Homo sapiens: one gene and its partners. Changing the gene in region 4 together with the main gene of any one other region gives a genetic interaction. Each region holds a gene or a part of one and is shown on either strand. Other genes may lie near its edges. The genes, in order: PNMT, TST, DCK, MAP2K2, KSR1 and GPI.

Region 1 (3,767 bases), on a different chromosome or scaffold from region 4:
CAGGCCCCAGAGGCAGAGCTGGGCAGAACTCAAGTCCAGTTGTGAGAGGGAGCTGGAGCCAGTTCTTTCCCTTTCACTTCCCTCGGCCATTGTGCTTCAATCATAACACCCCCACCTCCCCACCACCTTGCAGATTCTACTTCCATCTCCTCATGATCCCCACTCTCCCTCGTTCTGGTCTGAAGCAGTCTGCACTGTTTGTGACTTCACCTCTCTGAGCTTCACCTGGAAACAGACTAGCAGGACCTGCTGCTGAATGCAGGAATGAATGATGCGATGGACACAATGGCATATCACAAGTGCCTGGTGCACTGCAGGTGCCCGGTGAGCTCCCCTGACCTTGGCCTTCCTTAGTTTGGGAAGAATGAGTGGTACAGAATGCTAGCCTCAAGGAAGCTTCTGGAAAAAAAGCCTAGGGTGAATGTCTCCCCTACCCGGACACTCAGATCTCTGGGCCCTTGCTGCTTCCCAGGAGAGCCACACACAGCACTGACCGCAGCGGCAGGGTATTATTTCTTTATTAGGTGCCACTTCAAAGAACAGGGAATCCAGGTGGGTGGGGGCCACAGGGCACCAGGTACAGCCCTCACAGCCCAACCTTCTGAGCCCAGGCGAAGAAGACGCCCTTGACATCATCTACGCCTGTCTGAAGGTGGGCAGGCATGATATAGGTGCGGAGGTCCCGGACCTTGTAGCCACTACGCACCAGGGCCTCCCTCACCTCCTCCTCAGACACTGGCACCACCGTCAGCCTGGCCTCCCCAGCCAGGTACCACGACTCCTCCAGGGCCCCGATGAGGAGGAGGTGCCCCCCAGGCCTCAGCAGCGTGGTGATGTGGTCCAGGGCCCGCTGAAAGCTGGCAAGATCTGGGCTCACAGCCTCCAAGCAGAAGGCAGAGACCAGGGCGTCAGCAGGCAGGGGAGCTGGGCTCCCAGCACCCAGGGGCTGGGGCTGGTGCACGTCGATGGGCAGGACCCGTTTCACCCTGGCTCGCAGCTGGCGCTCCTTATCCTGCCAGCATTCCCTGTGCAGGAGGCACAAGGCAGGGCTCAAGGCTGTTCTACGCTCAGGCCTCTGTTGCCCCAACCAGCCACTCTATGGGAAGCCTCCTCCCCAACCCTCACCCCCCAGTCCTTACCCCTTGCCCTCAATGAGGCAGGCATGTTGGCTGTACATGCTCCAGTTGAAGGCCCCCGGCTCCTCCTGCAGCCAGCGCCCCAGCTCCTGGCGGTTGACCTCCAGGAAATCTGTCATGGTGATGTCCTCAAAGTGGCTGCAGGCACTGAGCAGCTGGTACACGGTGGGGCCTGAACCAATGTCGATGAGGGTGCGTCCGGACACTTCACCTGGGCAGGGCAGAGGAAGAGGGTCCTGGTGCCAGCCAGCCCAGGCAGCCCCTGCCTCCTTACCCTTCCCTCCCCTGCATCTCCCTGCCTCTCTCTAGTTCTTCCTTCTCCTCTGCAAATGTGTCTCCATCTGGAAAAAGCATTGGCCCCAGAGTTAGACTGAACCCAGCTCCAACATGGGCTGCCCTTCGGAAGGGAACTTCACCGCTCTGAGACTCAGGTTTCACATCTAGAAGACTATACCTACTGGCCGGGCGCAGTGGCTCACACCTGTAATCCCAGCACTTTGGGAGGCCGGGGTGGGTGGATCCTAAGGTTGGGAGTTCGAGACCAGCCTGACCAACATGGAGAAGTCCCGTCTCTACTAAAAATACAAATAAATTAGCCAGGCATGGGGGCGCATGCCTGTAATCCCAGCTACTAGGGAAGCTGAGGCAAGAGAATCGCTTGAACCGGGGAGGCGGAGGTTGCAGTGAGCCGAGATGGCGCCATTGTACTCCAGCCTGGGCAACAAGAGCGAAACTCCGTCTCAAAACAAATAAAAAATAAAAATAAGTAAATAAATGAAAATAAAATAAAGAAAAAGAAAGAAAACAACTATACCTACCAGCCAGGCTCAGCGAGGAAATCCTGGCAGTTTCTCACCCCTGTCCCACATCTGCCTCCATTTCCTCCTATGCATCTCCACCTCAGTCTGTCCTGCATCCCCCACCTTAGCTCTCAATTCTGAGCACTCTCCGCCCCCTCTCTCCACCTCTCTCTCCTCTGCCCCTCTCCTAAGGGATGTTGCTCTTTTTTCTCTTCTGTTTGCACCTCTCAGCTATCTCTTGTTTCTTGGTCCCCATCTGTTAGGCGCCTGGTCTGTCTCCCTTTCCTTCTTTTTATTTCCCTGCGCCTGCTTTCACTCCCCGACGACCTCTTGTCCCTCGTGCCTCAGTTTCCCCCGCTCACCGGTGGCGAAGGTCTGCGCCAAGCAGCGCAGCTTCCACGGCCCGACGCCGTTCGGGTTGCACAGGTCCCCGCGAGGGGGCGCGTAGTTGTTGCGGAGGTAGGCGCGCGGCTCGAAGCGCTGGTAGGCCGAAGCCACCGCCGCCTGGCCCGGGGCCGAGTCAGGGGCTGCGCCCGCATTGGGGCTACGGTCTGCGCCGCTCATGCTGCCGCCGCGGTCCGCCCAGTGCCCCGCTCGCCTCGCGGCCCTTTTTTCTACCGCCCGACCCCCGCCCCGACCGGTCCGCTGTGGGGGCGGCAGCTGACCGCCGAGCCGCCCGGGGCCATGTGCGCCGCATCCTCCCCACCCATTCATCCATCTCCCTTAGTGTCCGGGCTGCAGACACACCGGAGGTGAGTGGGGCGGCGGCTGCAGCGGCAATCGTCCCCCACACCCCCGGCTCCGTACTTGCTCCCGCAGCCCTCGCCCTCCGCCTCGCCTGCCCCGCCCCGAGTCCCGCCTCTGGGCGCCCCCCACCCTCAGTTCCTCACCCCCACAATCTTTAGACCCCCTCACCCCCGCCGGCCGGCCCCTCCCATCTCTCTTCTCCAGCCCCCCGCAGCCATTCACCTCTTTTGCCCAGCAGCCCGCCCCTTCTCTTTCCTGATTCGAGGTGGAGACTGGGGAATTAGGCCCTTTCCCCAGTTTCCCCCTCGCAGCGCCCTCCGCGACGAGGCCCCAGACCCCGCCAGGCTCCCCTCCCTCCCGGACACCCGTCCCAGCACCCACCCTTCCCTTAGAACTGCCACACAACTCCCCCTCCCCGCCCCTCCTCCAGGCCTCTCTCGTCCGTTGCTATGCCACCGGGCCCTCCAGCGACACCCCCTCCCCACCCCGCCCCAGAAAGGACAGTCCGTTCCGGCCTCCGCTGTGGTCGCTCCGGGGGCCCCAGAGCAGGGCGCGGCACTGCCCGTCCGATGGCAGGCGCGATAGGGGAGGTGAGCTGTGCTAATGCACTTAGCGGGCGGAACAGCCGGGCCTCCCCTGCGGGCCCCGCGGGTTCCCAGCCGCTTATCTGGGGGCTCCCGAGGACAGAAGGTTCGGGTTCGGGTTGTTCCCGCCACTTCGGGGGCGGCGCCGGACCCGGGTGAGGGCAGAGGGCTTGGGCAGGGGAGGGGCAGGACGCATTCGCGGAGGGCCGCCGGGGCCACCGGGGAGCGCAGTCCGGGCCTTGGGGCCCAGCCGATTTGGGGTCCTGCGGATGTAGGGGCTCTGACCCCACTCCTCTCGCAGCCCACCCTCCAGCTTCCCTCCGAAGGAGCGGCCAGGCCAGGCATGAAGATTCTGCTCAGCACCCCAGGTTCTGGCTGTCAAAATGCCAGGGTCTCCCCACCTATCTCCCAGATGGGAAGCCAATTCTGCCTGTGGCATCTCCGTGGTCTTCCTGAAGACCCCTTCCTTCCCCTCTGGATGAGTCCCGGGCCCTTCTGCC
Region 2 (4,074 bases), on a different chromosome or scaffold from region 4:
TGACAGCTTAAATCCCAAGGAGAAGAGGCGTCTTGAACCAAGGCCAGGAGAGGGCTGCAGGCGTTCCCAGCCAGGATTCTCTGGGAGGTGCCAAATGAACTTGAATCTTCAACTCCAGACCTTCAGAGAGCAAGCAGGCAAGAAAAATATGGGGCCTGGAAAAAGCTGCGCTGGAAAGGGCAGAGACCCTGCTGTCCTGGCTCTGTCACTAACTAGCTATGCGGCCTTGGCCCCTGCCTCTGTGCACCTCAGTCTCCCCTCTGTCAGGTGAGGTCACCGTTCAGGCCCTCCAGCTCTAAGAGTGTGCAGAACAGTTTTCCCAGCATTCTCTCTGTAGGAGGTACAGACAGGAAGAGATGTTTTTCAACAAGTCAGGCAAAATGTTGCACACGAGTTAGATTCTGTAGAGAAGGAGCTCTGACTGAGGAAAGAGCCACCAAGGAGGTGCCCAGAGACAAGAGAGGGCCCTGCTCCTGGAAATGGCCAGGCAGGGACTGGAGGGCACTCAGCAGGAGTGATGGCAGCGAGACGGCAGTCCTGCCTCTAGAAAAGGGAAGACCTCCGAGGTTCTGTCTGGCTAGGAGGTTCTAGAACTCAGCATTTCCTCTCCTGAGGCTCTCCCCAACCCTCAAGCAGTATCCAATCCACCTGGCCTTCCCTTCCACAGGAGGGGAACTTCTGAGTCGCCTTCCTGGGGCAACTAGCAGAGGGGACTCCCTCCTGGCCCTGGGAAGTAGGGGTAGGGCAGCATTGGGTGCGTCCTGGTTTATAGCCCTGGTTTGAAACAAGGCAGCATTGGATTCGAATCCTGCCTTCCACCACTTTATGTCCTGGCATCTCAGTCCCCCCACCCCCCGCTGCCAAAACAGGGGCATTGAGCTTTGTTCGCTGAGATAATGCGGTGCCAAGTGTCTGGCATGAAATGGCAGCTGCTGTTACAACTCTGCCGACGGGCTGCAGCTGCCTGGAAAGGTTATGGAACCTTTGCAAACAGCAGGCAGGGGCCCCAGGAGAGCTAGATTTGGGGAGAGGGGGATCCTGCGGGGAGGGACACTGTTGATGTCTATAAGGGTTTCTGCGGGACGAGAGAGGCCTGGAGAAGCTGGATGTGTCCGTGGGAGGTTTCTGTACAGCAATGCAAACGCTGGCTCAGGGGCATGACACCCTTAGGTATATCCTAGTACATGTGGGGCAGCTGGTGCCTGGGAGTGGAGGTGGTGGACATGTCACCAGTGACTTCTGCTCACACAGATGCTAGGTGGCTTCTTAGCACATGGCTATGAGGACACATTCTTGGGTCCTTGTGCATCCAAGCTGAAAAAGCCTTTAGGTTTGTCTCCACTTTCTGGTTTTATCGATGGAAAGACTGAGGCCTACATGGGAGGATTGAAGGCATGGGACGGACCCTGGAGAGGGTCCCAGTCATCCTTACTCCCTATCCTTCCATGGGGCAATACTCCCCAGGGACCACCCAGCACTGGGACACCTACCTACTGCATCCGGCTCCGGCTCGGTGCCCAGGAACCGCCCTTGAGACCTTGAATCCACCAGCTGGAACCTCTTAGATTCAAGGTTCTCCAGCACCTGCTCGTAGGTCTTGAGCAGGGAGCGGTCCAGTGTGGCTTTGAAGACGGCCGGTTCTGGGCGTGAGGGCTCGGATGTCACCGGGTGGCCCTCCTTCAGCCAGTTCCGGAAGCCACCATTGAGCACTGATACGGTGCGGTGGCCAAACACACGGAACATCCACCAGACCCGGGGAGCATAGAAGCTGCCCAGGTGTTCACCATCATACACCACCACGTGCGTGTGGTTGCTGATGCCCAGGCGGCCCACATACTCGGCGAAGCCAGCCTCGCTGGGCAGCATCATCTCGTAGGGCGACGCCGTGTCCCGGCACTCTTCTATGTCAAAGAAAGAGGCGCCGGGTACGTGGCGCTCGAGGTACTCCTTGCGGGCCTCTCGGGTGCCTGGTGAGTACCAGGACGCGTCCAGCACCCGCAGGCCGGGCCCCAGCTTGCCAGTCCTGATGGACTCCGCCAGCCACTTGGTGGAGACCAGCGCCCGGTAGAGCACCTGATGAACCATGGCTTCAGCTCTGCGTGTCACCTGGCACGGGTGGGAACCAGGAAAGAGAGACAGGCGTGAGGAAGGAAGTCGGTGTGTGCAGTAGGGTGAGGCCTGGGAGAAGCTCTTTCTCCCTCCGCACTCCCCCGGGTTCCTTGTTTACAGCAAGCCAGCGAGGCTGGGGCGTGCAGCGGGATAAGTTTGCAGATTCCCTCTGGAAAGCCGGCCCCGCCCCTCCCAGCCGGCCCGGGGGCCCAGCGCAGAAGCGGGTGGGGCAAGAGTTTCCGAGGACTCCAAGTAGGGGCGCTTCCTGGGGCGGGGATCTGGCTCCTAGAAGTTACAGTACTCGATCCCGCCAGGAAAGAGCAATGAAAGCATGCCCGGGATGGGGGGCGATGGCATCTTGGGCTTAGAATCCCCTTTCCTTCCAAGGCAGAGGGGGTGGGCGCACGGCTAGGAAGCTCCGCGAGCCGCGCACACGCCATCGCCTGCGGCCTCCCCAGGCAGCCCGAGCTCGCCCGCCTCCAGAGTGCCCGAGTCCGGCCCGTAGCTCGCTGCCCTCTGCCCTAGGTGGATCAGGGGTTCCCGGGGCACCCCGTCCCACTCTCGCAACGCTATCCTTCCCCGGGCAGCAGGTGGCCCGACCGGCGGCCCAGGCGCCCGGCCGCTGCCCCCGCCCCGCACTCACTCGCCCCGGACGCCGCGCTGGCGCTCGCCCCGGCCGGCTGGAGAAGTTGGCCGGTTCAAACCCCCGGCCGCAGCTCCCCAGGCGGCGCGCACCATCGCGCCACCGCCAGAGGGGGACCCTGCGCCGCCCGCCGCCATCCCGCGCCTCCCCCGCGCGGCCGCTTCGCGCCCGGCACCTGCCAACCTCGCGCGCGGGGCCTCCGGGACCCGCGGGGGTCTGAGGGGGACGCCGGGTGGCGCGGGGGCCGCGCGGGCCTGGGCTGGGCGGAGCGGGCGTACCCCCACGGCCCGGCCAGTGGAAGGCGCGGGCAGCAGCGGCTCCGAGTGGCCGCGGCGGTGGGCTGTGCCGGAGTCTCCTCCCTTTGGTCCGCTGCAGGTTGGTGGCGGGAGGAGGGGACAGCTGCGGGCGCGGGGAGGGGGCGCCGCGCCGCGGGGGCCATGGCGGAGCCAGGAAGCCGGGAGTCCGAGACCCGGGTAACTGCCGCGGCGTGGCGGCTTGCCTTTCTGGAGGGGGAGGGAGTGGCTCTTTGGGGGTGCTCGGCGCGGGGCTCCCGCGCGGGACCTGGGCGGAAGAGGGGGCTTAGTCTAGGAGAGAAGGCGCGCCGCTACGTTGGCACTAAGGGTGACTGTCCGCTTGGGGCGGCCTGCCGGGTGGGGTCGTGGCGAGTGGCGGGTGGGGAGCCTTGGGTGGAAGTGGGTGACCTGGTGGCACCAGAGAGGGCGGGGGAGAGAGAGGAGGACAGGGAGACGAGACCCCGCTGACCCAGAGGCCCCAGGAAGAGACACTAGCCAATAACTTGTTAGTGAGTGAAAGGAACTAACATTGTCCAGCCCTGCTTGGTGTGGCACTTTGCTGGGTACTCCCGTGGTGTGACTTAATTCCCACAATAACCCTGAGGAGTAGGCCAGAAACTTACTAAGACAGGAGAGAGCGGCAGAGCGAGTTGCTGGAGGACACACCCAGAGTTGAGGCCGGGCCTGATCCCTGGTCTGAAGCCCACGTGGTACCAGCTGCCTTTGTTTACCTGGCTCTTCCCTGAAGGTTCATGCTTTTTAAAAAATTGCCTGTTTTGAACTTAGCCCGTTTAATCATAAGTTGATGTAATTCAATTTTTAATAATAGCTGTATTTAACAACCAGTTGGCAAAATTCCTGAAAAGCTCGCCATGGGCTCTTGCAAACTGGGGGACACCATTGCCCCTCCCTAGCTTTTGCAGAGGCCAGCCTGGAAGCTTTCCCTGTTTCCCAACCCTGACCTTTTGTTTTGTTTTGTTTTTTGAGACAGGCTGTGGTTCTGTGGCCCAGACTGGAGTGCAGTGGCGC
Region 3 (3,383 bases), on a different chromosome or scaffold from region 4:
AGTGGCTGAGGCAGTATTGCTTGAGCCCAGGAGTTTAAGACTACAGTAAACTATAACTGCGCCACTGTACTCCGGCCTAGGCAACAGAACAAGACCCTCTCTCAAAACAAAAAAAAAAAAAAAATTAAAAGAAGAGGTAAGTTAGTCAAATGAAGAAGGCTATTATTTACCAGACTTAATGTTGCAATGTATCTAGCATTTTTCAAAGGCAATAACATCTATATCTCTATTTTAGAAACATTTTACAACTCTGTTCTTTAACATATGACAGACTTAAGTTCTAGGTGGCTCGGTATAAGTTTCAAGTTTTAGGCATAGCAGAAGAGAAAATTCTGGATGAGAAAAATAAGTCTTGTATTATTAATTACCTTTCTAGGAGAGCAAACTATAAAGAGCAATAAATAAATTCTAATGGAAGACATGATATAGGTAATAGATCCAAGAGATAATCCAGACCACCATTAGGCTCAATTCTATTATGACCACCACACTGAGACAACTTTTGAGTCATGACAAATAAATAATAAATTTTTATTAGCGTCTTTTCAATTCTACAAATTTTAAAAGTCATTATACATTTTTAAAGGTTACTAAAAATCACTGAAATATGTCTCCACTTAAAATGGAATCAAAGTAATTTATACAATTTTCACCTTTAATATTCATAATTTATTTAAAAGTAGAATAAATTTTAATTCTAAAATGATTATTACATCTTTTTAGAACTGAAATTACATTTCAATGAGTGTAGCTCCACTGTAGTTCATAAGGTTTATACTTAAGAAATATTTAATTAACAAATTAATTTATACCAAACAAAAACAAACTAAAAAAATGCATACGTATAATGAGACAGTTTATGTATGGTAATTACAGATTTGAAATTAAGTCTCCTTTGCAAAGATCAGTGCGTCTGGACTGGTTAATCCACTAAATTATCATCTTTGAATAAGAAACCAAAAACAAAAATGACTTGGAAAGAAAAATAGTAGTTTAAAAGTGAAAATGACTCTTCCCCTTATTTTAAAATACATAAAATTTTCTAAAACGTAAAATGGAAAGGTTTAATACACAGGAAAAACACTGCACACCTTAACTAAACAAACTAGAAAGAAAATATATTTATATACAGAACTAAGATGAGTCCATTCATTATTTTTACAAATATTCACATAGATGGTTTAGAGATAAGTAGTTAAGTGTGTCTCATTAATTAATGGATGCTTTCTAGCCTCTGTCTTCATTAATTTTATTTCCTATTCAACAAAAAATAATGCTTTCAGGATATATTACATATAGAGCAATATCATTTTTATCAGTAATTTGTCTGAAAAAGAGAAAAACTTAAAAGCAGAACCCTACAAAGCAAAGCAAACTACAAAGCAAAGAGTAATCACAGTGTTTGCAAAATAGAAATGTGTGACTTTAACTTTATAGCAGGCTGCCTAATTAATCCAGACAGTAGAGAAAGCAGACTGAGGCAGGAAGTAAGAGGTGGGACTAAACTGTTAAGAAGATAATAATTTAAAATAAAACTTCAGAATCCTTATTCTAGGGATTCCTTTAATTCCACTTTGCAACTTTTAATAGGTACACTAATTTACACAGGACACACTACCATTTACTATGTAACATTAAAGCTTTCAGTTTAAGAAACTGGTCACCAACGAAGTGAGAGGCACCAGGGAAAAAAGCCAACCTGCTGAGGAAGACAAAAGAGGGGAATGACAGAAGGAAGCTGGATCTTTTATAATGTAGTTTAGTCACTATGCTGATACTGGAACCATCTACCTCTACATTTCCTGCTATGAGAAATAATGTCTTTGTCTTTAAATGTCTTTTTTAAAAAAAAAACAAAAGAAAAGAAACTGGTCAAAAAGTTTTGCATAAGATTCATTTTAAAAATCTTTTTTCCTTAAAACAAAAACGATTAAAAACTTGGGTTTTCTAAAGAAACTTATATTAATATGAAGTTACGAAGATACACAAAGCTGAAGTATCTGGAACCATTTGGCTGCCTGTAGTCTTCAGCAAGATCACAAAGTACTCAAAAACTCTTTGACCTGAGGAAAGGAAGAAAAAAAAATCAGTATAATTCCTTGACTAATTTGAGGTATCTAATATTCATCTTCATTTAAAAGTATATAATAGTTGAAGACCCCAGCTGTATAAGTAACTACCACAATGCCATTGCATTTACTTTCCAAAGAAATATTGTTAAGGCCGGGCGCAGCGGCTCATGCCTGTAATTCTAGCATTTTGGGAGGCCGAGATGGGTGGATCACTTAAGGTCAGGAGTTTCAGACCAGCCTGGCCAACATGGTGAAACCCCCCATCTCTACTAAAAACACAAAAATAGGCCAGGCGCAGTGGCTCATGCCTATAATCCCAGCACTTTGGGAGGCCGAGGCGGGCAGATCACCTGCGGTCAGGAGTTCGAGACCTGCCTGACCAACATGGAGAAACCCCTTCTCTACTAAAAATACAAAATTAGCCGGGCATAGTGGCACATGCCTGTAATCCCAGCTACTAGGGAGGCCAAGGCAGAAGAATCGCTTGAACCTGGGAGGCAGAGGTTGTGGTGAGCTGAGATCGCGCCATCGCACTCCAGCCTGGGCAACAAGAGCAAAACTCCGTCTCAAAAAAAAAAAAAAATTAGCTAGGCATGGAGGCGTGCACTTGTAATCCCACCTACTTAGGAGGCTGAGGCAGAACTGGTTGAACCTGGGAGGTGGAGATGGCAGTGAGCCAAGATTGTGCCATTGCACTCCAGCCTGGGCGACGGAGCAAGACTGTCTCGAGAAAAAAAAGAAATATTGTTAAATACTTCAGTAGTAAAAGATGAATGACCTAAAAGGTCATTTTAGGAGTTATTTATTGCTCTGTCACCCAGGCTGAGTACAGTGGTGCAATCAAAGCTCACTGCAGCCTTGAACTCCTGGCTAGGTGCACACCATCATGTCTGGCTAGTTTTTGTTTGTTTTTTATAGAGATGAGGTCTCACTATGTTGCCCAAGCTGGTCAGGAACTCCTGGGCTCAAGCAGTCTTCCCACCTCAGCCTCCCAAAGTGCTGGGATTACAGGTGTGAGCCACTGCATCTATCAATCTAAGATAGATATAGTTCTAAAATAGCTGTAACACCAATTTTATAATCTCTTCATTTAAATATCATAGACCACTGACATATGCAGCTTTAACACTGATAACATTAATAAGCACAATAGTTCAAGCAACTTTGAAAATCAAACATGTAGTAGATTTGTCATGTTTCTGAAGCACATATGTGAATCACATACTTTGCAATGTCAGTGTGTGCAGAAAATCATGTAAGGAGTCAATGAACCTAGCCTACTGACCATAATGTAAGAATATGCTTGTTCTC
Region 4 (3,500 bases):
GTAGTCCCAGCTACTCGGGAGGCTGAGGCAGGAGAATGGTGTGAATCCGGGAGGCGGAGCTTGCAGTGAGCGGAGATGGCGCCACTGCACTCCAGCCTGGGTGAGAGTGTGAGACTGTGTCTCAAAAAACAACAACAACAACAAAAACAAAAACCAAATTACCCAGCTGTGGTGGCACATGCCTGTAGCCCCAGCTGCTTGGAAGGCTGAGGCAGGAGAATTGCTCCCGGGTGGGAGGCGGAGGTTGCAATGAGCCAAGATTGTGCCATTGCACTCCAGCCTGGGTGACAGAGCAAGACTCTGTCTCAAAAAAAAAAAAAAAAAAAAAAAAAAGAAAGAAACCTGGTAGGCACTGCTAGAGACAAAAACCTAAGAGAGAATTCCAACAGGAAGGGGAGATCTGGCCGGGCGTGGTGGCTCAGGCTCACTGCTAGTGGAATCCCAGCACTTTGGGAGGCTGAGGAAAGAAGGTCACTTGAGTCCAGGAGTTCATGAGCAGCCTGGGCAATACAGCGAGACCCCGTGTCTACAAAAGATTAGTAAATTAACAAATAAAAAATAAAGAGCAAGGGGAATCCGAAAAGCAGGCTCCCAGGAGGCACCAGCTTTAGACGTGCCTTGTGGCAAGTGGGGAGAGCTGATGAAGGGGAGGGTGCAGCTGGGGTGGGACTGTCCCGGGGGTGCTAACAGCCATGTAGGAGTGTGTGCCCACGAAATAGTTGGGAAAGCCTCGTGGGAGGCGGGGAGAGCTGCGCAGGAGAACTGGGAGGGACAGCTGCGCAGGAGACATGGGGGTGAGAGCTGAGGGGGAGAGCTGGCTGGCAGAGCTGGGTGGGGAGAGCTTGGGGGAGAGCAGCAGGGAGGAGAGCTGGAGGGGAGAGCCAGCGGGGACTCACAGCCATGTAGGAGCGCGTGCCCACGAAGGAGTTGGCCATGGAGTCGATGAGCTGGCCGCTCACCCCGAAGTCACACAGCTTGATCTCCCCTCTAGAGTTCACGAGGATGTTGGAGGGCTTCACATCTGGAGGCGGCAGGCTGCGGGTGAGGGGCGCCCAACAGTTGCCTGCCGGCCCCCGGGGCTCTGGGGAGGGCGGGCTGGGCCTTACCTCGGTGCATGATCTGGTGCTTCTCTCGGAGGTACGCCAAGCCCCGGAGAACCTGCAGGGGAGCGCGGAGGGAGTCACGGGACAAGGCCACCAGGGCTTAGCTCCTGACCGAGCCCGGGGGTCAGAGCTGAGCAGTCAGAGCTGGAGCGAGGGAGCTGCGGCAGGAACCATTTCAGGCTGTGAGGAGCTCGCTGGGGTGGAGCAAGCGAGGCCAGAGACGAGACAGTGCTGACAGCCCTGTGCTGGCGTGTGCAAGTCAACCCCGGTTCCCATGGCCGCAGTGCCGCCGATGCCACTACTGCCTTTGATTCAGAGCACACGGCTTAGCCCCAGGGAAGCTGAGATGGTGGCCCATGGCCCGGGAGTAGGCTGGGCTGCCGAGTTTGCCCACATCAGCCTGAAAGGCAGCATCTGGGGTCCCAGGGACTGTGCTAAGGGCCCCCAGATGGGACGGGCTAAGGGTGCCTGGGAAGGACGATGTTTCCCCCAGGCCCGCCCTGGAAGCAGCATCCCGAGAAGTGAAGCAAGCAGCACAGGCAGTGTGACGGCAGCTTTCAACTCGGAAACGCGTGTCTGGCAGCATGCGTCCTGTGTCTTAATCCAACACTGGTATGGGCAGGCGGGACTCGGCCCCTGCTATGGACAAGGTGCAAGCTCCAAGAAGCAACACGCACGGTCTGCTGAAACCACACGGCTCTACGGAGCAGCTGTGCTGGAGACCGGGCAGCAGAGACGCCCTTGGCCCCGGTGACATTTCTAACAGCAATGGTGAGTGTGTCTGGAGGTCCTGGCGTCCCACATCCCACCCCAGAGTCTCCCTTTCAACAAGCTCCTGTCCCCTGCAACGTGCCAGCTGCCAACATCCCCCTGCCACGAGGGGCAGAGGGGACCAGTGTGGCAAACAGAGGATACTAAGAGTGAAGAGGGACCTATAACGTCTTCACTTGGCAGATGGTGACCTCAGGCCCCAAAAGGGACGTCACTTGTTCAAGCTCCACAGCAGGTGGGCACAGCCTTGGCCACTCTCTTTCTGCAGGGGCCACCCTAACCCCCACCACACTGTGAGTGGCTCCCGGAACCCTGGCCGTGTGGAAGAGGTCCGTGCAGAGTGCGGTGGGGGCGCGATGTGGGTCTGCGGTGGACTCACCGCGATGCTGACTTTCCCCAGGATCTCCTCGGGAATCCTCTTGGCCTCTTTCAGCACCTGGTCCAGGGAGCCGCCGTCCTAGAGGGCACACAAGGAGTGAGTGCAGGCTCTGCGCAGGTGGCCGGGAAGCCACGGATGCGTCCCCCCACTCCCGGCGAGGGGGTGGTCTGCCTCCTGACGGGAAGCAGGGGCCGGAGCCCAACTCCACCCACGGGCCAAGGGCAGGGCGTCTTCTGACAGTTCTGCCTTTGGGTCTGAACACCCACCCACAAGGTGGGGAAGGAACAGGGCCCAGGGTTCCCCCGCCTCCCGTCCCATCCTCGAATCAGTTGCGTGACTCGGCCCTCCTGAGGTCGCCACGGCAGAGGCTCTGCTCCGGGCCAGCCCAAGCCGCGGCCGGGGGCTCAGGCAGCTGTGGGGCCCGCACTCCCTGCAGCCTACGTGGTGGGCTTGTCTGTGCGCCACGGGAGGCGGCCAGGCTGGAGACCAGCGTCTTGGGCCTGCGTCCTCTTCCCAGCACACGAAGGGAAGGGGAGGGTGAGGGCGCGGAGGAGACGCGGGTGCTGCCCCGCGTGGGAGGAGGCGGCGGGTCGCTGTGTGCCCGTCCAGACCCCCAGGGGGCTCCCTCGCCAAGCCCTGCGGCTCCACTGCTGGGCGTCTGCCCTGCGCCTGTCCCTGCCACCTAGGGCAGAAAGGCCAGGCCGAGTAGGACCAGGGGCCAGGGGGTGCATGGACTGCAGGAGGGATCCCAGTGACGCCAGCCCAGGTGACGGTAACCTCGGCCCCTCCCCACAGCCTGTGGTCTCCTCGCCACTGTGCCGGGCATCCTGCGGAGGGCCTGGAAACGAGTCATCATGGGTAGGCTGGTCCCCGGGTGTGGCCCCACATCCATGTCATAAATGATGAAACAGAAATTCCATGTCTTGCCCAAGGCTGCCTGGCAACAAACCTGGGGACCAAAACCCCCAAATGCCAAAACCCCAGGCACTGGGAGCCACCCAAGGTGCCTCTTCAGAGGCAGAGGCTCCGGACACACCTGCCAGGCCACCCCCAGGACAGCAGGGGTGACAGGCCAAGTTCCCACTGCCACCGTCTGGCGTGCGTCTCTTCTGTGCTCAGCAGAGAGGAAAGTGGAACTGAGGCTAGAGAGGGCGGGCTGGAGGAGCCTGGAGAGGCTGGCTGGGGAGCCTGGATTTCCCCACCATGCTGCTCCAGGACTCCTGCAAAAGCCCAGCCTTCCCTGGGAT
Region 5 (3,244 bases), on a different chromosome or scaffold from region 4:
GGGTGAATACCTTAACCTCTCCGTTTCTCATTTTCCTCAGCTGAAACATCACAATTCTTACCTCATGGCCTTGTGAGGATTAAAGTGAGATGGTGTTTAGAAAGTACCTCTTCTCCACCTATCTGTATATATAACTGGCAATGAGGGGCTCCTAGATATTGGATTCAGATGAACACCACCTCATCCCTCCAAGGCTTCCATAAGGCTAAGGCATCTCCAGCTCAGGAGATGCTGGGCCTGCTCATGGCTTTGTTGCTGCTGGGGCCTGGATGATCTTCCTCTGCGCATTGTGGGCCATTGACGCTGTGCCTTCTCCATTCCTCCATCTGTTTAGAAACACCTGCCACTGAGGTCCTGGCATAACTTCTTCCTTTGGAAGGAGCTCCTTAATCTATAGACCAGGGGTTCAGTCACCCCAGACCTATCCATTCCCATGCCACCCATCCAAATGGTCCCCAGGACTCAGCTGGAACTGACCAAAGCAAAGACAAGCCCCAGAACACCTTGGTATAACTTTATTCACAAACTCCAGACACCCAGGCCTGGCTTAGCACAGAGGGCATGTTCTTGCCAGTGGCAAAAAAACCCGATACAGCATGTTTGTTAATACTAACCATTTTAATTTAAATTAATAGCATGTCTGGAAGACAAATGTAGTTGATAGAAAATATAAAAACTTTACTGTACAAATTTTACATCACATTCAAAAAAAGCAAGTGTGTGGCTTGTGGCCACAGAAGATGCTAGGTTTGCACGCTGATGAGATCCTGGCTAACACTGCTGCATAGCACAAACTCCAACTGGCTTCACATTTACGTCTCCACCCTCCCCCCACACCAAATCAACACAGAATAACACAGGTTTCCAGGGCTTGCCATTCCTCTCTGTGACCTCAAGAGGAAATGCCGTAGGATGACAGAGGGTGTTTTGATTTGGTGACATGGAGAGATCAACTTTGCTACACACTGCTCACAACCCCAAACTAGCTAGGATTCAAGACTTCGAGTTAGACAGAAACCCAGGGGGCTGCGGCTCTGGTGGTTAAAGGCAGCAGGGCTTCAGAGGTGAGGCTGGAAACTGGGGATGCCTGGAGGGCCAAAGCTTGGGCTCCACTCTCAGACCCCCGTGGGGACTTCCGCAGCCCCTAAGAGCTCTCCCCGAGCCCTCCCAGCCTTCTCCATCCCCTTCACAGTTGGCCGTGAGGGCTGAATTCACAGTATCTGTCATCCTTCGTGTGGAGAGAGCACACAGAAGGGCAGGTGTGCCTTCCTAACCTCAATTCACAGTCACTGAAATACAAGGGGAACAGAGGGGGCCATCATGGGGTGGGGTGGGGTTCTTTAAAGGCAGGCAGTGCAGAGGTGGCAGGCTGAGAGCCAGCTGCCCCCAGTCCTTCAGTTCCACCTTTGGGGCCCAGTGGCTTCTGGGTTCCTTGAAGACAACAGGGCCCCACCAGGTCATCAGTTCCTTAAGAGCAGGGACCATGACTGTTCCTATCTCTAGGTGCCCAGCACTTGCAGAAGACCAAGTGCACTGTAGTTGCTCAATGAGCGCTTCTTTAACTGTGATGCTCACGAGAAAAGCAAAACCCAGACTGACTTTCTGTGGGCCTGTGCATGCCCACTGCGGCCTGGTGTCAGGGGTCAGGGAGGAACTGAGCCTACTGTTCCTCCCAGTTGGACGGCTGAGCTGACATCCAACTGTGGGGCTCACCAGTACATCCATCAGGCCTGCTCTTGCCTGGACAAAGGCCACCATTGCAATAGAAAGGTGAAAGGCTGGAGACACACGTGATCCCTGGGAAGGGGCAGGTGTGTGGGAGGCCAAAGGGATGATGGGGCAAAATGAGCAGTCCCACCATAGCACAGAAACTCCACACGGAGCTGAATCCACGGGGTTTACAGCCTCCCCACACAGACTGGGAAGGGTGAAGATGCTGATGGCCAGGCACACTGGCACTGTAATACGGCTGTGCCCTCCCAGGAGGGGCTGACCAAGGGATGCCAGGCCTGGAGAGGAGGCAGCTCCACAGCTTGCTGGCAGAGCAGCTCATTTTCTGTGGCATTTTGACCAGACTCTGGTGCTAGGGAAGGGGCTGGAGACTGGGGCTCTGCTAGGCAGGTCTTAACTGGAAGGGGTGGGAGCCACACCCCTCCCTCCCCAAGTCTGAGCTCAGAGCATGGTCACAGGTTCTGGGCCTGAATCCAATCACGTCTCCACTCCCATCACCCTTTTTCCTTTCTGGTTTTGGAGTCTAATGCAACCTAATCTCCACTTAAGGGCTCCCTTGCCATCTGGAACTTTTTTCTGCAGTTAAGAGTTTCTAACGAAGACAAGCGTGGTGCTCTCACTTCAAAGACTTTTCCAAATCCAGCCCCTCCTGCTTCAAATGGACACAAGTAGAAGGCCTAATGGTGCTAAGGAAGGCTCTGCAGATGGGGGCCAGCTAGGTAGGTCTAAATGAAAGGGGTGATAGCCCACACACTGCCCAGCTGAACTCAGAGCATGGACAGAGGAGTCGGAAATAGGCTAAGGGGTTTCAGCAGGACTGAAATGGAAGAGGTGGGCAGTTCTAGAACCTTCTGGCATGACTGACAAAGGGTTTTTACAGTGCCAGGGTCACCCTGTGGCTGGGAAGTGGGCTCAGGTACTTTTGCCATCTACTCCTCCTTGTTCCCACCCATCCAGCCCTCATGGTCAGATGTCAGTCAGGGACTGGGATGTATCTAAAAGCCAAGGCCCTGAGTCCCATCACCTTGGTGCCTGCCTGGGGGCTTCATCAAAGACTCACATCTGTACAAGCCATGGATGTTTCCTCACCTTGCAGCAGAAACCCTGGCTGGGAACCACCGGGTGAGTCCAGACCTTTTTTGGATTCTGTTTCTACTTTTCCAGCAGGAGCAGCCTGGATTACAGGGGTGAGAAGGTGAACCCAAGCTCTCCAGGAATTCCAGACTCCATAAACTAGCTCAGTTCCTAGCCAGGGTTTCCTCTGCAAGACGAGGAAGGGGCAGTATCCCTTTGAAAGGACAAGGGGAGAGCCCTAGATAGATTTCCCTGATGGAGTCTTGGGCCAAAAAGCAGAGGCCAGATCAGACCTTCTGGGCTCCCCGCCCTACCCCAAGAACAGCTGCAATTACCATGTTTGTCTTCCTTCTGGCCCAGCATGGGTCCCTCACCGCCTACAAGGTCCTCAGAGGGGATGGCCATTTCCGCCATCCTGGCCGTCAGTGCCAGTGCATCT
Region 6 (3,500 bases), about 30 Mb from region 4:
CAGGCGTGAGCCATGGCGCCCGGCCTCTGAAAGCATTTATTGCTTGTTTCTGACATGTATTGTTGCCATTCTCTGCCTTTGCTCACTGTTCCTCTTTTCTCTCACTGTTCATGCCCTGAGCATCTCTGGCAGGCCTTCGGGGCCTGTCCTAGGCATATATGGGTCCCCTCCTCTCCTCCTGACTGTCTGCAGCACATAAGTCCTTGGGGAGCTCCTACTCCTCTAAGCATACAGTGGGTTCTTGGAACAAGGTTATGGTGCTAACAGAGACCTCAGGGCCTGCCTGTCTAGTGGATAGAGGGCCGAGCTATGGCACCATGCCCAGCTGGGAGCATGGCTGCCTGGGGTTGGGGGGGGCAGTCTTTATATCCTGACCGTAATCCCCAGGGTCGAGCCGTGCTGCACGTGGCTCTGCGGAACCGGTCAAACACACCCATCCTGGTAGACGGCAAGGATGTGATGCCAGAGGTCAACAAGGTTCTGGACAAGATGAAGTCTTTCTGCCAGGTAAGTGGCTACTGGGCCGGACTCACCCTTGGCCGTGTGTGTGAGTTATTTGGGAATCTGGGAGCCCTAAGGGGCAGCTCTTCCCTCTTCTTGTAGGCAGGACTCAGGTTCTCACTGCAGCTTAAGGGAGGGGTTGCCTGTGTGATCGCTGACCCTGGAGTCTCTGCTGAGGCCTGAATTTCTCCTGGCTCTGCTCTGAAGGAATCTGCTGCTGGCAGAAGTGGGGCCAGTTTCTTTCCTGAATTGTAGACACCTATGGACTCATGGTGACAAACCACAGAGGCTTCAAATGAAAAGTGGGGCCCCTGAGAGACAGGACAGTCAGGAAAGGAAGGAGCTTTTTCTTTTTTCTTTTTTTTTTTTTGAGATGGAGTCTCACTCTCTCGCCCAGAGTGGACTGCAGTCGTGCTATCTCAGCTCACTGCAACTTCCGCCTCCTGGATTCAAGCTATTCTCCTACCTCAGCCTCCCGAGTAGCTGGAATTACAATTATGCGCCACCCTGCTCAGCTAATTTTTGTATTTTTAGTAGAGACGGGATTTCACCATGTTGGCCAGGCTGGTCTCAAACCCCTGACCTCAGGTGATCTGCCTGCCTCACCTGGGATTACAGGCATGAGCCACTGCGCCTGGCCGGAAGGAGCTTTTTCTAATCTCTTTTGTCATACGCCCTTATCACCCAGTCTAGAAACAGATAAAACATTGTAAAATTTCCTCAACCCTGGCTGGGCGCGATGGCTCATGCCTGTGATTCCTGAACTTTGAGAGGCCGGGGTGGGTGGATCACTTGAGGTAAGGAGTTCGAGACCAGCCTGGCCATCATGGTGAAACCCCATCTCCACTAAAAATACAAAAATTAGCCAGTTTTGGTGACATACGCCTGCAATCCCAGCTACTTGGGAGACTGAGGCAGGAGAATCGCTTGAACCCGTGCGGCAGAGGTTGCAGTGAGCTGCGATTGCGCCACTGCACTCCAGCCTGGGCGACAGAGGGAGACTCTGTCAAAAAAAAAAAAAAATTTCCTCATCCCCATTCCCAGCTAACCCTCCAGAAGCAGCCTTTGTAAAGTTTCCTGTAGCCAGGCGCAGCAGCTCATACCTCTATTCCCAACTATTCAGGAGGCTGAGGTGGGAGGATGGCTTGAGCCTGGGAAGTTGAGGCTGCAGTGAGCCATGGTGACACCACTGCACTGCAGCCTGGGCGACAGCAAGATCGTGTCTCTAAATAAATTTAAAAAATAGAAAAGTTTTCCTGTGAAGTCTTCCAGAAAGTTCCTGTGCACATACACATCTGTCATCTCCTCTTTGAAACACGTACACATGTGCACATGCACACAGGTTGGTTTTCTCCCTGCTCCTCTGAAGCTTATTTCCACCTGGAAGTATGTAAGCAGTGTCCGTGTGTCAGTGACAGTGCATGTAACATGCCTTCTTTTCCTTGTGTGTAGGGTGGTAGGGGTTGCCTCAGAGACCAGCTAAGTTTCCCCACATCAAGCACTTGCCTCAGTGTCTACCCTAGCGGTGATTCTGCAGGGGTGGGTTGGCAGACATCCTCACGTCTGGAGAACGAGGGTGATGCCGGTGTGCCTGTGTGGGCTGTGCATGCTACGAGGGTGATCGTCCAAACTCTTGTCAGCTGTGATCATTTGCTGCTTGTCCTAGGAGCAGTGGCCTCCATGTGTGGCTGGTCAGAGTCCAGTTACTTTGGCCAAGAGCCACTTTCAGACCTGAAAATGGGCTGGGTGCAGTGGCTCACGCCTGTAATCCCAGCACTCTGGGAGGCTGAGGCAGGTGGATCATGTGAGGTCGGGAGTTTGAGATCAGCCTGATCAACATGGTGAAACGCCGTCTGTACTAAAAATACAAAAAAATTACCTGGGCGGGCATGGTGGCGAGCACCTGTAATATCAGCTACTGGGGAGGCTGAGGCAGGAGAATCTCTTGAACCCGGGAGGCAGAGGTTGCAGTGAGCCAAGATCACGCTACTGCACTCCAGCCTGGGTGACAGAGTGAGGCTCTGTCTCAAAAAAAAAAAACCAACAAAAAAACCAACCCATCTCTGGAAAAAATAAATAAATCAGCTAGGTGTGGTGGTGTATCCCAGCTACTTGGGAGGCTGGGGTGGGAGGATTGCTTGAGCCCGGGAGGTTGAGTCTGTACTGAGCTGAGATTGTGCCACTGTCCTCCAGCTCAGGTGACAGAGTGAGACGCCTCCAGGGCAAGGAAGTTGTGGGGTCCTGATGGGAATCTGGATTTCCTGAATGTCACTTAGGGTGATCAGTCCATGTGATGGTCTTTGGGTGTGTGGCGGGGCCTTTCCAGCCATCTGCTGTGAGTGGCAGAGCTGAAGTGCATTAAAAGCCTAGTGCTGTGTGATCAGTCTGGGTGTGCTCAGCCATGCCACATGGCGAGGATGGCACTGCACCGTCTGGGGTGCTGTTTCCAGGAAAGCCTTCCCTTAAAGCTGGCCACTGGAGTACCTGACTCAGGCTGATAAGGTATTTATAGTTCAAAAAAAGTTGCTGAATGGCAGTAATCCCCTGGTGAGGAACATTCCCCATGGCTGTGCTCTCCAAAGTTTGCCAAGATTGGGTGAAGACGTTCACTGTGACCTTGATTGTAGTGGCAAAACCTGAAACCAAGCTGTACTCATTTGTCAGGGGACTTACAAAGTAGAGTCAGCACATATTCATATACTGTCATCCTGGGCACCAATAGGGATTAGGGAGCTATAGTTGGATTGATCTGCCATGCTGTTCAGGATGGACTGGGAAGTTGAAAAAGGAAGTTGCAGAATTGGTGGGTATGGTAAAGACTCATTTGGTCAAATGAAGGCTGGGTGTAATTGTAATAAAGATAGACACATTTGGCTTGGTGCAGTGGCTCACACCTGTAATCCCAGCACCTTGGGAGGCCGAGGTGGGTGGATCACGAGGTCAGGAGTTCAAGACAAGCCTGGCCAACATAATGAAACCCCATCTCTACTAAAAAAAAA

What was found.
Region 1: changes in MAP2K2 (region 4) and PNMT together harm fitness more than expected from each alone (negative genetic interaction), as found in Homo sapiens cells (one large-scale study listed by BioGRID).
Region 2: changes in MAP2K2 (region 4) and TST together harm fitness more than expected from each alone (negative genetic interaction), as found in Homo sapiens cells (one large-scale study listed by BioGRID).
Region 3: changes in MAP2K2 (region 4) and DCK together harm fitness less than expected from each alone (positive genetic interaction), as found in Homo sapiens cells (one large-scale study listed by BioGRID).
Region 5: changes in MAP2K2 (region 4) and KSR1 together harm fitness more than expected from each alone (negative genetic interaction), as found in Homo sapiens cells (one large-scale study listed by BioGRID).
Region 6: changes in MAP2K2 (region 4) and GPI together harm fitness more than expected from each alone (negative genetic interaction), as found in Homo sapiens cells (one large-scale study listed by BioGRID).

The regions. Positions count from the first base shown.
Region 1 is NC_000017.11:39,667,209-39,670,975, reverse strand, and holds PNMT (phenylethanolamine N-methyltransferase), read right to left. Parts: upstream 2,524-3,767; 5' UTR 2,501-2,523; coding exon 2,299-2,500; exon of another isoform or gene 1,955-2,298; intron 1,348-1,954; coding exon 1,140-1,347; intron 1,026-1,139; coding exon 587-1,025; 3' UTR 501-586; downstream 1-500. UniProt on the Homo sapiens protein: Catalyzes the transmethylation of nonepinephrine (noradrenaline) to form epinephrine (adrenaline), using S-adenosyl-L-methionine as the methyl donor. Other substrates include phenylethanolamine and octopamine. Also methylates normetanephrine.
Region 2 is NC_000022.11:37,016,648-37,020,721, forward strand, and holds the start of TST (thiosulfate sulfurtransferase), read right to left. Parts: upstream 2,801-4,074; 5' UTR 2,753-2,800; intron 2,107-2,752; 5' UTR 2,086-2,106; coding exon 1,491-2,085; intron 1-1,490. Other genes in the region: MPST (3-mercaptopyruvate sulfurtransferase), read left to right, coding at 3,190-3,225.
Region 3 is NC_000004.12:71,028,032-71,031,414, reverse strand, and holds the end of DCK (deoxycytidine kinase), read right to left. Parts: intron 2,064-3,383; coding exon 2,037-2,063; 3' UTR 501-2,036; downstream 1-500. UniProt on the Homo sapiens protein: Phosphorylates the deoxyribonucleosides deoxycytidine, deoxyguanosine and deoxyadenosine. Has broad substrate specificity, and does not display selectivity based on the chirality of the substrate.
Region 4 is NC_000019.10:4,100,123-4,103,622, forward strand, and holds part of MAP2K2 (dual specificity mitogen-activated protein kinase kinase 2), read right to left. Parts: intron 3,085-3,500; exon of another isoform or gene 2,695-3,084; intron 2,332-2,694; coding exon 2,254-2,331; intron 1,159-2,253; coding exon 1,107-1,158; intron 1,022-1,106; coding exon 897-1,021; intron 1-896. UniProt on the Homo sapiens protein: Catalyzes the concomitant phosphorylation of a threonine and a tyrosine residue in a Thr-Glu-Tyr sequence located in MAP kinases. Activates the ERK1 and ERK2 MAP kinases.
Region 5 is NC_000017.11:27,623,692-27,626,935, reverse strand, and holds the end of KSR1 (kinase suppressor of Ras 1), read right to left. Parts: 3' UTR 501-3,244; downstream 1-500.
Region 6 is NC_000019.10:34,368,196-34,371,695, forward strand, and holds part of GPI (glucose-6-phosphate isomerase), read left to right. Parts: intron 1-387; coding exon 388-507; intron 508-3,500. UniProt on the Homo sapiens protein: In the cytoplasm, catalyzes the conversion of glucose-6-phosphate to fructose-6-phosphate, the second step in glycolysis, and the reverse reaction during gluconeogenesis.